Regions from separate parts of the Homo sapiens genome. Here all the other regions are linked to region 1. Evidence: fine-mapped expression QTL. A gene starts in region 1. Each other region holds a variant in brackets. All regions are shown on one strand. Distances are between the middles of the regions.

Region 1 (4,231 bases):
AGCAGCTTCACACTCCCGGGACCGTACAAGCGCCAGCGAACGCAGGCTGGAATTCACCAGCGCCAAGCTGCCCGGCTCTCCAGCCCCGGCGCCTGCCTCTTTATCTGTACCTTCAAAAACAGTAATAAGCAAACCCAGGCACCTCTGGGAACAGCCTCTGGCCTCCTGCCCTGCCCTGTGTAACCAGCCTGTCCTCACACCCACCAGGGAGGAGGAGTCGGCACTGGTTAACCCTCTGGTCTACCAGGCCCGGTTCCCAGGTTGCAGCAGGGAGACAAACTGTTGCTCAAGAAAATCCTTCAGAAAACCCTTGGCACCAGGAGGCAGCTCGGAGCGGCTCTGCACCCGGCGCGGAGCCAGGGGCTTCCACAGGCGGCCGCCCACTGCCCTTTTAAATCTTTGGGGCTGGGCCCTACTCTCCCATGCCCTGGGCTGTCCACCCAGAGGGCTCCAAATGTCCGTGGCAGAGCAGAGAGGAGGGAAAGGCTGGCCGAGCCGTGCCCTCACCCCGCCAGCCCAGCCGCCAGCTTCTTGGAGGACCTCTGAGAGAACATTTGTTTGGGCTGCCAAGTTAAATCTTCCTCCCTCATGTCAGGGCATTGGAAAAGCAGTCAGGGGAGAGGAGAAGGGGGAGAGCGCGCGGGGGAAGGAGCAGCGGGAGGGAGGGAGGGAGGGAGGCAGGCGGGCAGGCTCAAAGCCCCAGTTACTCGGGCACTGCCTACCCAGGAAGCTGACGGCTCCCGGGCAGGCGCAGCCGGGGCTCCGGGCACCGAAGCAGGGACCCGGCCGTCAGGCCTCCCCGGTCAGGCAAGGGTACCAAGCACCCTTGGCCCACCTGGGAGCGGCCCTCGCTCTGTGACCTGCTGGAGGGACGAGGTGGGAAGGGAAGGCAGAGAAGGAAAAAGTTTGCTGCAGGTAGAGGGGTAGGGCTGGGCGGCAGTGCCGACCGGCTGTCCCCGGGGAGGGGTGGGGGGCCCGGACCGGCTGCCCTGGCGCGCTCCCGTCCGCCCGCCCTCCCGCCCGGGTTGTTTACATTCCTGGAGTGTCTTTTAAACCCGGGGCTGAGGCCGGCTCCCGGCCTTCTCCGGCGGCTCCGGGGCAGTCTCCCGTGAAAATCTGCTGGCGCACAATGGCCGGGAAGGCGGCCGCCCCTCGCCCGCGCCCCCACCGCTCCAGGGCGGGGAGCCTGCCCTCCGCACCGCGCCCTATCCCCGCCCGGCCGGCTTCCTGGACAGATGTCCCCAGCGAGGGGGCGACGCGCGCCCGCTGCCCGCGCCCTAGACGCCGAGGCCGCGCTCCCCACTGTTTTTTCCCCAGCCCAGACGCCAGGAATGTGAAGCAAGCTTCCAGAACCCGCCTCCCCCCCCCGACCCCGGCTCCAGCCCCGGCCCCCCAACCTCCGCCCCGGCTGGCCTCCCACTCCCCCGGGGCCACCGCCGCCGGAGACGGAGAGGAAGAAAGAACACGGGGAAATTACTTTCGTATTTGCAACGCGCGCGCGCACACACACGCACATCTTCCCCCTGGGCTCCCCTCCTGGCCGGGGCAGCCCCGTCCAGGCACTGGCCTGAGCGCCCCTCTGGCTTGCGAAGCCCTGGGAGAAAACCCTGCACACACACCTCCGCGTTTCTCGTTTGTACCGCGCGCCAGCTTTCCCCGGGCAATTCCCACACAAACAACTTAACCGCGCCCCCACCTCCCATTTACAAAAGTGTATGTTTTCCCTGGAAATTCAGACGCACAAGTTAACACCACCACCCCTTGCCATCCTGAAATCCAGCGCTTTCCCCAGCGGTTCCTGTACACACACAGGCGCACAACTTCGCATCTCCCCAGAGGAGGCGAAGGAGACCGAGGCGGTCCTTCCCTCCCTCCTCCGATTCCCGGTCCTGCCCGGCCCCCGGGTGTAGGGAGCGAGGGCTGGAGGCGCGCCGGCAGGAGGCGGGCACCGGGTCCGCGCGCGCACGACCACACTTACGCCCCGCACACCCTGACAAACCCGGCCCCCACGCGCAGCCCAAGCCGGCTCCGCGCAGCCGGGAGCTCGCCGGCCGCCGGGCCTCGGCCCCCGGCCGCCAAGGAGAGCGGAGCGGAGCCCGCGCCGCCGGCCGGTCGCCCCGCTCCGGGGGACACTTTAAGGGAAAAACCCCAGCACCCAATCCCCACGCTTGCACCCCGAGAGTCCCCGGGGAGCGGGAGGTAGCCCCGGAGCCAGCGGGCGCCTGGCTCTGGCCCCAAACTTACCGGGCGCTGCGAGCGCCGCTGCCGCCGCTGGAGGACGCGCCGCCGCCACCGCCGGGTAGGGCAGGCTCGGGCCGGGAGGAGCGCAGCGAGGGCGCCGAGATCCGCTCGGCTCCGGCTCCTGCTCCGCGCCGGCTGGGGCTGGGGTCACCGCGCTGCGCCGGCGTTGCTCGCTCGCTCGGCCGCCCGATCGCTGCTCGCCCGCCTGCCGCCCGGCCGCCCGCTCTCCCCGGCGCCCGCCGCCGCCGCTCGCTTTTTTAATGTCCACAGACAGTGAAAAGGAACTCGGCGTTAGGGGGTGAGTAAGTGAATCAACTCGCCCGGAGCCGAGCAAGTTGAAGTGTCAGATTACATTGGCTATTCTATTTCCAAAGGGCCCCGCGCCGCCGGCCGCCCGCAAAAGCCGGTGCGGAGTCAGGCCGGAGTGGAGCGCCGCGCCGCGCCGCCGCCGCTGCCGGCGCTCGGCTTGGCTCGCGCTCTGCGCTCTCTTTCCCCTTTCCTTTTCGCCTCTCCTCGTTCTCTCCCTCGCCTTTCCTTTCCTTTCTCTTCCTCTCTTCCTCGCTCCTCGGTCTCGGCGCTCTCCCAGCTTTTCTTCTCCTGGCTCCTGGTTCCCCGCTACGCCACCAGTCCACTCACCTCTCTCCTTGCCCTACTCCCTCCGCTACTCCCTGACGCCCCCTGCAGCCCCCAGCCCCCCTGCAGGCCCCAGCCCCAGTAAGTTTGGAGAGGGGAACAAATGCTGAGCCTAGGTAGGGACCACCTTGGGGAGGAAGCCAAAATCACACTGCTCACCCGAGAGCCCCTGCCCCGCGCTGGCACGCCCCCGCCTGGAGTGCACTCGTGGCCCCGGGCGCTGTCAGGTACCCGAATTGGGGTAAGCGAGTTGGTAACTGGACCTCCAAAGCCTTCCCCTGGGGTTGACTTTGGAATTGTTCCTACAGCCCGGGGACTGGTGGTTGGGGTGGGAAGAGGACCACCACCACCAAGGGTGACTTTGAGGGAGACTAGAGCGCGGCCCCCCGACAGCTGTGGGGGAGCGGGGGTGTGGTGGCCACAGTTGATCCGCGGCACCTAGCACAGTCCAGAGACGCGTGGATTCCCCTAGGCCCGGCGCGGAGCGCCCGGGGCGCTGTGCGCGCGGGCTGCGTGGGAGCTGCTAGGCTGGGGCCTGGCCCTCTGCCCCGGACTGGGCACTGCCAGAGATAGCGGAGAGCTAAGGTACTCACGAGGCGCAGTTGGGTGCACCCACTCGCGGGAGTTCCCCTAGCCGACCCACCCCCCCCCCCCGAGAGCATCCAACTACGCGCCCACTTTGGCTCACGTCCACTGCCACTCTCACGGAAACTCCTACAAGAACGGCACACACGTTCGCTCCCTCAGCATTGCAAACACGCTCCCCCCCAAACCACAAACGCGCCCCCACACACTCGCTTACTTTCCCTCACAAAGATGCCCGCTTACACGGCCACAGCAGGCACGCTCAGAGACACGCAGTTACACACACACATCGCTGTACACAACCCCACATACAATCAAAAAACAAAACACGAAACGTTCCCCTGGGCACTAAATCCTCACGTTAACGTACACACACAAACACACGCCCTCCTCTCCCACTTCCTCTTCCATACCCCTTCCTCGAGGCCCCCCACCCCTGATTTTCGGCACCCCCAGTCCCAATCATAATTGGCGCCCGCGCAGCCCTCTTTGGACACACACGCGCCGCCCACGCACGCGCTCCCCTCCCCGGCAGGCGGGGGCGGCTTCGGCCGGGAGCCGGCGGAGCCCGCTTCGGATTCCAGGTGTGGCAGTGACTCCGCGCTCCACGTTTTGCAGGCTGCCACCGTGTCGGAGGCGAGGCGAGGAAGGGAGCTGGAATAACAAAGGCAAGTTGGGGAGAGCGCAAGGGGGCGCAGCCCCGGCCGGGCTGCGGGGGGAGCCTTGCACGGCCGGGGCTTCGGAGGCTGCAGGGTCGGGGGCGCGGGGAGCC
Region 2 (4,231 bases), 94 kb before region 1:
TCCTTGAATACTCATGAATATTCACACAGCCTCACGTCCTGCTGAACAATCACACCCATACACAGGCACACGCTACTACGCACACACTTACACACAAGCACACAGCCACACACCCTCCTCCCTCCCTCCCTCTGGAAGCTCTGAGTCTCCCAGAGCCACTACTCAGGCTAGGGTGCACTGTCATCCTGGGTCTCTGGGCAAGGAACCCTGGTCCCACATTAGGGCCAGAATGAGAGAAGCTGCTAAGAGGAAACCGGCTTTGTCAGGCCCAGCTCTGGCTCCCAAACTGAGCTCACCCAGGCAGGGGAGGAAGGCTTGGAGAACACACTCCCCATCTGCTGCCCTCTCCTGAAGGATCGTGGCCCAAATCCCAGAAAGGGAAAGGGAGCTGCTGAGGTTACACCAGACAGACCAGCATATCAGACCTAGGTCTGAGGCCCCCACCTCCCAGACAAGGGCTTTCTGTACCTCCCCACCCCCCTACCCAACCCACAACCTGTTAGACACCCTCTGATATAAGGAGTGTGGCTCTTTCCCTCAACCCTGCTCAGTGCCCCTATGTCCATGCAATGGGGCCAGTCAGCGGGGAGCAGGCACTGGTGCCTCAGCGCCTGTATCCTCGTCCAGTCCTCCCCTGGGACCTTTGGGAAGGGGCTCTGGAGGGAACAGGCTTCCTCCCGATCAGTGCAGCCTCCCCAGTAACCATCCTGGAGAGCCTCATGCTCTCTCCCAGACTCAGGGATGCTCCAAGCCCCAAAATCCACTGTCCAAGTGGCCCATACAGCCGCAACCCCAGCTTGCACACAGTTTAGTGATGAGGAACTCACCACCTCTGCAGGAGGCAGCTTTTTAACATAAAATCTCCAGATAGCTCAGACTCTTGGAAAGTTGAATTGGAAGATGCTGAAGAGATAGCATGGTTGCCACTAAGGGGCCTGAGGTCTCCTGGCCGGAGTTCACCAAGCAAGACTGTCCTTTCATCATTAGCTTGGAAAGTGACAGAACTGGCCCATCACCCTGACTGTCACTCCAAATTATAACAGAGCTACAGTCACAATATCCTATAGCCAGTACCACCTCCTTCACTCAAGACAGCTACCTAGAGACGCATGAGAATCACTCACTCACTCACTCACTCACTCACTCACTCAATTAACAGAATATCAATGGGGCCACTGCTCTGTGCCAGGGACTAAGACGTGGTAGTGAACAATGGTTCATTCAATGTTCTTTTCAGTTTAACAGCTGCCCTTCACCCATTTTACAGGTGGCAAAGCTGAGTCCAGGGAAAGGCAGCAACTTCTCAAAGCCATACAGGGAGCCAATGGTCAAGAGCGGAGCCCCACGCTGCCGCTGTTGGTGCTGACAGTGGGCCAGCCCTGGGAAGAAGGAGAGAAGGCCGCATGTTCACCGTCCCCACCCCCAGCCGTGTCTAGGACACCAAGGTATTGATTACCACCCTCGCCTTAGAGTGGTTTTCTTTTCTTTTTCCACCAAGGCTTTCTCTTCCTCATTTTTTTTTTCTTTTTCAAAGAATCAACTCGAAGCTGCTCCTATGATTAATTACCAGCTGCCTAATGCTCCGCCACTGGCAATTTATGGAAAAGGAATGAATTACCTTGAAAAACATCCGAAAAGAGAACCCACCGTGAAGGAGAATTTCAAAGGTTACCAGACAATTAGCAGGGGGTTCCCCTAGCCTTATCGAGTTGCAGGCAGGCCCCATCGGGAGAGGCAGGCCACCAGCCTGAGGGCCACCCTCTGGCTCCAGAGAGCAGCGGACTTGGCGGGCTGGGCAAAGGCTGCAGGGCAGAAATGGAGTGGCTTTCCCCAAGCAGCTCCCATGCTTGTCCTGGGGCCCCGCCCCTGGCCTCTAAGGCCTTATGCACTGGTTAATCCTGATGGACCTCGGTTCAAATCCCCATTCCAGCACTGATGGCTCTGTGGGTTTCCTAACCACGCCGAGCCTCTGGAGAATGAATTAGACAAACCTCCCCGTGGGATTCTTGTGGGGGTAAAAAGGTATTAAAGGAGCATAGTGCCTGACACACACACAGCAGATGCTCACGAGACTGTGACATTTAAAAATATTCATGGCTTCTAAGCATCCTCACAGCAGCTCTGTCAGCAATGTCAGTATAATCAGCCTCATTTTCAGATGAGAAAGCTGGCTCTCACACAAGGGAAGGGACTGGCCCAAGGTCATGCAGCCAATCAGCAGACAGCTGGGATTTCCTGCAGCAGGAACGGAGATGGAGCCTGGCTCTCCAATGTCGGAGCTTGACTGAGGCTCGCCTGGCCCTGCCCCTAGGCCCCTGGAAGCGCTAAGCTCCAGGAGGGACGCTGAGGGCAGCA[G/A]GGGATGTTAGGAGACAGCTCCACACCAGGGCGAAGACTCCCCCCTCCCGGGCTGCCCCAGCACCACGACGCCTTGGGACAAAGGGCTCTGGGCCAAGTAAGGATTTTTGTGAAGTCTCTCATCTCTAGGTTGAGAGTTGCCAAGTAAACAGGGATTACACAGGTCACCCTCGGGCACAGGGCCAAGTGAGATCAACCCTGAAATGCCACCCCATGATGAGAAATGCTGGGGCACGGGACAGAGCTGGGCTTGACCTCAGGACCTGCTGGCCCCGACCTTAGGACCTGCTGGCCCCAGCTGCTCTCAGTTGCTCCTCAAGGTGCCCTGCCCCCCTTATCAGGCGGGGGGTCCAGTTCGTGTCCATCCTGGCACTGGTGGGTCCTCAGGGGGAGCAGGGTGGTGGAAACTGAGGTGTGTGGGGAGAAAGGTGGGTCCTAGCACCCTTGAGGAAAAGGACTGACATGTCCCTAGTCCTTGCTGTGTGCCAGGTGTGTAGTCTCCTCACTGCGAGAGTGGAGCAGGCACCGCCATCTCATTCCCATTTGATAGATGGGTAAACAGAGGCACAGAGTAACCATGCATGCCAGTCAGGATTTGAATCCAGGTGGTCTGACCCCAGAGCCCAGTGTATCCATCTCGGCATGTTTGTGAGAGTGGGCAGAAGGGGTGGGTAGCCCTGCACCCATTTCAGCCGACATGCTCCTGCTCACCCAGGCCTCCTTTGGTGGGGCTGCCCATACTCCACAGGGTTTAGAGTGGTGCAGACAGGGCTGCTGTGCCAAGACCAGGTGGCCAGACCTGCCCCTCTCCCCGGGCAGACCTGCAGCCCCCACCCCTAGCAGCTGCTCTAGAGAAAGGCCAGGCCAAGAGGTCCCTGGGTGCCAGGTAGAGGGACAGCCCATTGGGGGCATGATGAGGTCCCAGCAAAGGTGGCTTGTGCCCGCTCCTGCCCCTCAGGGCTGAGGCCCGAGTCAAAGGTCCAGCGTGCTAGGGCTAGCACCTGCCCTCATGAGGACTCACCTGCGTCCGACCCAGCCACCTCCCGCCAGCCCCGTGGCACACCTACCTCAGTGATCTGCAAACCACCAGTGTTCCACACGCCGGTCAGCAGCTTGCGGCCCCTCCACCTCACTCCAGCTCCATCCTGCTGCAATGAAAGTGGGAGGTCAGCGGGTCTACCCACAGTAGAGGCCCGGCACTGACCATGAGGCCACTGCCCACTGCCACCATATCATCCCCATCTGACAGAGGGGGACTCTGAAGGGACATGATGGGGTGCCCTGGCATAAACAGGCCCCTGACTCCCCACACCTGCCAGTTACTGGTTATGTGATTACAGATATGCTCTCAGACTCTCTGGGGTTCAATTTCCTCACGTGTCAAAGTGGGGTCAAAGTATGTCTCAAGGTCACCGGGAGAATCCAGGGAGATGCAATGACAAAGGCACTTCGCATTCACTCATTCATTCAACAAACATTCAGCAAGCATGCTGATGTGATAGTGATCCCTACCCTTGCGGAGACTCAGACGAGAGCAAAGAATCAAATGATACAAAAGTAAAAGCAGTGCTTGCCAGAAACAAACAATGAGTCCAGGAGCCACACAGCAGAGACTCAAGGTCCCAGGTGGCCTCTCTGGAGAAGTGAAGTTGAGCAACAAGCCAGGGAGAGGCAGACCAAGATGCAGCAAACAGCATTCCAGGCAGAGGGAACAGCATATGTGAAGACTCCAAGATAGAGAAAAGTGCCTGGCCCAGTGGAGGACTTGGGGTCTGTGGTGTAGCAGATGCACTGAGCAAGGGAGGGGTGCCGTGAGTGGAGACCAGGGGCCAGGGACAGTAAGAAAGAGGGTGGGCAGGAGCCACAGCAGCATCTG
Region 3 (4,231 bases), 66 kb after region 1:
AGGGATAAACCTCACTAATCGTTAATTACCATCCGTGGTGCAATTTTATGACTTTCCAGATAAATGCTCTCTGAGGGAGTGTCAGCATTACGGACTCCTAGTTTAATGATCTGGGGTAGTGATTTAAGGGGTGGGGTCCCAGGTGGCTGGAGGATGGGAGCAAAAGCTGGTGGAGCCCCTCAGAATCGAGGCCAGGGCTCCTGTCTGGCCGGGGGCAGGGATGGCCTGAGCCGAGCATTGGCTGGAGTGCAGCTGGCTGCTCCTTCCTGCCGCTCTCCTGAGCTTATGCATCTAGAGAGCACACTCCCTGCCTGCTGGCTGCACCCTGTGACCCCCGGGCTCCAGCCAGGCATCATGAGACTTTTGGGAGTGGGAGGTCTGAGAGTCGTTCCATCTGCCAGCTGTGGGCTGCTACAGCTCACCTGTCTGGCAGCCTCACACCTGTTAGCTCTTCAAGGCAGGGTGCTCGTCAGGACTGCCCTCTCCCTTTCTCAGGACACATCTCCACCTCCCACATCCTACCTGCCCTTTTGCTGTTCTTTTCCCAGAAGCCCCTGCACATTGGGCAACCCCACTCCCAGCTCTATGTTGGTCTTCCCTGAACTAGGGACATTCCCAAGTCAGCCTGATTCCCTGCCCAGGCTGGAAGCCCAGGCTGGGGCGGTGGGGGACATCCCTAAATCTCCCAGAGCCAGACTTGTAGTGGGCACGTGGGCTTCCTCCATGTTCACTGCATTTAGGTTTCTTTTAGGGAGAAGGGCTGCCCCAGGTGGAAAAGAGCTGAGGTTGCCCCTCCCCGAGCCCTACTATGTGCTGTGTGCTGGACCCCAGGCCAGGCTCTTGCTATGCCTTTGCATAAGGTTAAGTGAAGGACTCTGGAGCCAGCCTCCTGGGCTCAATTCCCATCTCTGCCATATATAAATTTGGTGACTTAGACAAGAGACTTGACCTTTTTGTGCCTGAATTTCCTCACCTGTAAGTGCAGGTTACAGTCGTACCTACTGCATAGGTTTATTGTGAGGAACAAATGAGTCAACGCATGGAAAGTTCTTATTCTGGTTTCAGCACGTAGACTGGGCTCCTAGTTTGCTGTCATTAGCACATCTCCATGAATCCTTACAAACCCTAAGTGGATGCGCCTGGCTTGATGACAGACAGCACAGTGGCCAAAGGTTTGCATACCAGCCAGTCACCCATGCATAGATCTGGTGCTCAACCTATAGCAGGACCCGGGAACATTAAATTTCCTGAGCCTGAATTTCCTCCTCTGTAAAATGCCAATCATAATAATAATAGCAGCTGCTTCTTAGGATTACTGTTCTGATGACATAAGTTCATACCCATAAAGTAGGTCACAAAGTGCCCGGCACAAAGCAAGCTCTTAATAAAGCAAAGTATCGACACTCCCATTTGACAGATGGGAAACAAAGTCTCAGCGAGGGGAAGGGACTTACCCACCAGAGGTAGTCATTAAACTCAGTTTCATCTGAGTGCAAAGCCAAGGCATGCTCCTCTCTAGCCCCGCTCCACCGCCCATGGACAGGGGTCATGTTCAGACCTTCTCAGGCCCTGAAGCCCTCTCTTCAAGGGCTCATAATTGGAAAACCTTGACCACCCTCCTCCTGACCCAGCACACTTATTAGCTAGTTGAACCCGGGTGAATTGAAGTTGCCAAAGGCACCCTGTCTTCCAGGAAACAGGGCCAGCCAAGGCCACTCTGCTGACCTTGGTGGGTGTGACAGGTCCCTGGGTAATCAATCCCCTTTATGACCAAGGCCACCAATTTTCTCCCTCTTTGATTCCCTCTCCTGAAGCCTGGTGCATCCACTCAGCACCTGGTTAGGAAGCTAGGCCAATTTTCCTCCCTTTTGATTTCATTCTGCTCCTGTCTGGCTGCCCAGCCACATGGAGAGTTTGTCAAATGGAATTTCTGTCTCTTGCGGCCGCCCTGCCCTCTGCAGAGTGCTGAACGGGCAGGCAGGATCACCCGGCTCAGTGCC[G/A]CAGACATCACTCTCTTGTGATAAGGGCCAGTGCGCACCCTTGAAGGAGGAGCCTGTCATTCTTCACAGTCACCAGGCAGCTGGCGGGTAAGGCCACCTCGCAGACTCAGAGTGGGGGCACAGGATGGCAGCAGACAGCGGGGGCGGCTGGCAGCAGTCCCTTGAGCCCACAGGCTTGGGAGGAGGCAGCTTTGGGTCCCACAAAGGGCAGGGCATAGGGTTGCTGGAATAACAGAGGTCCCTGCCGCTGCTCATCCACATGGCCCAGCATCAGCACGAGATACTACTGGAATGAGGCAGCTCAAACTCAACTCTCGGCTGCCACCAATGCTTTTTTTTTTTTTTTTTTTTTTTTTTTTGAGAAGGAGTCTCGCTCTGTTGCCCAGGCTGGAGTGAAATGGCACGATCTCGGCTCACTGCAGCCTCCGCCTCCTGGGTTCAAGCAATTCTCCTGCCTCAGCCTCCTGAGTAGCTGGGATTACAGGCCCCTGCCACAATGCCTGGCTGATTTTTGTACTTTTAGTAGAGACGGGGTTTCACTATGTTGGCCACGCTGATCTCAAACTCCTGACCTCAGGTGATCTACCCGCCTCGGCCTCCCAAAGTGCTGGGATTACAGGCGTGAGCTGCTGTACCCGGCCAGCTGCACCATTGCTAATAACCATTAAGTCACATTTCATCACACGTAGGTGCCAAACTTGAGGCTTTTGAAATATGCCTGTGTATTCTTTGACATGCCTCCCCTTGAATGTGGGCTGGACTTAGTGACTTGACTTGCTGTCTCCCCTTCTCCAGGCAAGGGGGGAACCCCAGGCATCATAGAAATAACAGCAATCCTTGCTGCTATTCCCCAAACCCCTACTGTAGGCCAGGGACTGGGCTAGGTGGCTACCTGTGGCCTGTTAGTGACTCATTTGATCCTCAACCCCACCAGTGGGGTAGCTGATATTATTAACATCCCCATCTCAAAGATGAGGAAACTGAGGCGCAGAAAGGTTAGCAAATCACTCATGGCATCAGCTTGTAAGTCACAAAGCCAGGGTTGAGCCTCCGTGGCTTGGCCCCAGGGCTTTTCTTAGCCACTGTAATACCCAGTCACAAGGACACTCCCTGCGGGGCAACTGATTGTGCAGCTGAGAGGAGCCAGTGGAGGAGAAAAAGCTAAGAGGTTCCTGAAGGGTGGAGGGTCAACCTCTTTTCTGGAGGAGGATGAGGAAAGCCTTGACTGAGAGATAGGGAGGACTGGGGAGGTCACAGAGGGACCTGTGGGCACAGGGTCTCTGGAAGCTGCCCTGGGAATTCTTGGCTGAACTGTGTGCAATAGAAATCTTTTTTCTTTCTTTCTTTCTTTCTTTCTTTCCTTTTTTTTTTTCCTTTTTCTTGAGACAGGGTCTCTGTCACCCAGGCTGAGTGCAGTGGTGTTATCAAACTCACTGCAGCCTCAATCTCCCAGGCTCAAGCAATCCTCCCACCTCAGCCTCCCAAGGAGCTGGGACTACAGGCATGCATCACCATGCCCAGCTAATTTTTTTGACTTTTTGTAGAGATTAGGTCTTGCTATGTTGCTCAGGCTGGTCTTGAACTCCTGGACTCAACTGATCCTCCCGCCTCAGCCACCCAAAGTGCTGAATTACAGGTGCAAAGGAAATCTTTAAAGCAAAATGCCAAGGAAATACTGTTTGAGTAGGACTGTACCATTTATAATCAGTTTCCACAGCCATCTTAGGGAACTCTCACCTCTCCCTGGGTATGCCACCCACCCAGTCCCCCAGACAAGATTCTGGGGATCTGCTGGACACTTCTTGTCTTTCAGGTGCTCTAATTTTACCAGCCACCATGCAGTCCTGCCTCTTGGGTGCCCTAATTCTTCTGGGCAGTCCTGCCTCCTACCCACCCCTTGGTTCTGGTTCTGCCCACTTCCTTCCCACTCCACTGCTCCCACCCCACCGCCAGCCACTGCCACCTCCTGCCTGCTGGGGACACTGACATCACCTCTTGGCTGCTTTTCTCTACCCAGTTGCTCTTCCCTCTGACCACTTCTTCCCTGAAGGGACCTTCCTACATCACAATTGAAACAATTCTCCTTCCTTGCTTACAATTGCTCACTGACTCATGTGGTATTCAAGTCCAAATCCCTGAGCATGTTTTTGAACTGGAAAAATGACAGGGGGCAGTGGTGGTAATCAGAGCAGGCTTCCTGGAGGAAGTGACAACTAGGCTGAAGGATGAGT

Direction of the effects. Positions count from the first base shown, and alleles are read on the strand shown. Sizes are in standard deviations (SD) of each study's normalised expression. Not every link is listed here.
In carriers of allele G in region 3, the expression in cerebellar hemisphere of the gene that starts at base 2,549 in region 1 tends to be higher than with A alone (small effect, 0.31 SD a copy in GTEx).

The links. PIP is the estimated chance that this variant, and not a neighbour inherited with it, causes the effect. A credible set is the group of variants that fine-mapping cannot tell apart.
Region 2: its variant is the best candidate, but not a certain one, in a credible set for the expression of ZMIZ1 in whole blood (TOPMed, PIP 0.67).
Region 3: its variant is the best candidate, but not a certain one, in a credible set for the expression of ZMIZ1 in cerebellar hemisphere (GTEx, PIP 0.69).

Annotation. Positions count from the first base shown.
Region 1 is chr10:79,067,284-79,071,514 of GRCh38, reverse strand. It overlaps ZMIZ1 (zinc finger MIZ-type containing 1), which reads right to left and starts at 2,549. Exons shown (of 25, transcript NM_020338.4): 1 at 2,245-2,549. ZMIZ1-AS1 (ZMIZ1 antisense RNA 1) reads left to right here and starts at 4,067. Exons shown (of 10, transcript NR_024431.2): 1 at 4,067-4,127. RefSeq lists enhancers at 1,539-1,588, 2,790-3,635, silencers at 1,789-2,768, 3,029-3,098, 3,899-4,108, 4,209-4,231 and a cis regulatory region at 2,231-2,916.
Region 2 is chr10:79,161,325-79,165,555 of GRCh38, reverse strand. It overlaps ZMIZ1 (zinc finger MIZ-type containing 1), which reads right to left. Exons shown (of 25, transcript NM_020338.4): 4 at 3,423-3,503. Among named protein-coding and RNA genes, the nearest start is that of ZMIZ1, 94 kb to the right of the region's middle. RefSeq lists an enhancer at 2,585-3,256. The variant G/A (reference allele first, on the strand shown) is at 2,356.
Region 3 is chr10:79,001,395-79,005,625 of GRCh38, reverse strand. All of the region lies in intron 5 of ZMIZ1-AS1 (ZMIZ1 antisense RNA 1), which reads left to right. Among named protein-coding and RNA genes, the nearest start is that of ZMIZ1-AS1, 64 kb to the left of the region's middle. The variant G/A (reference allele first, on the strand shown) is at 2,001.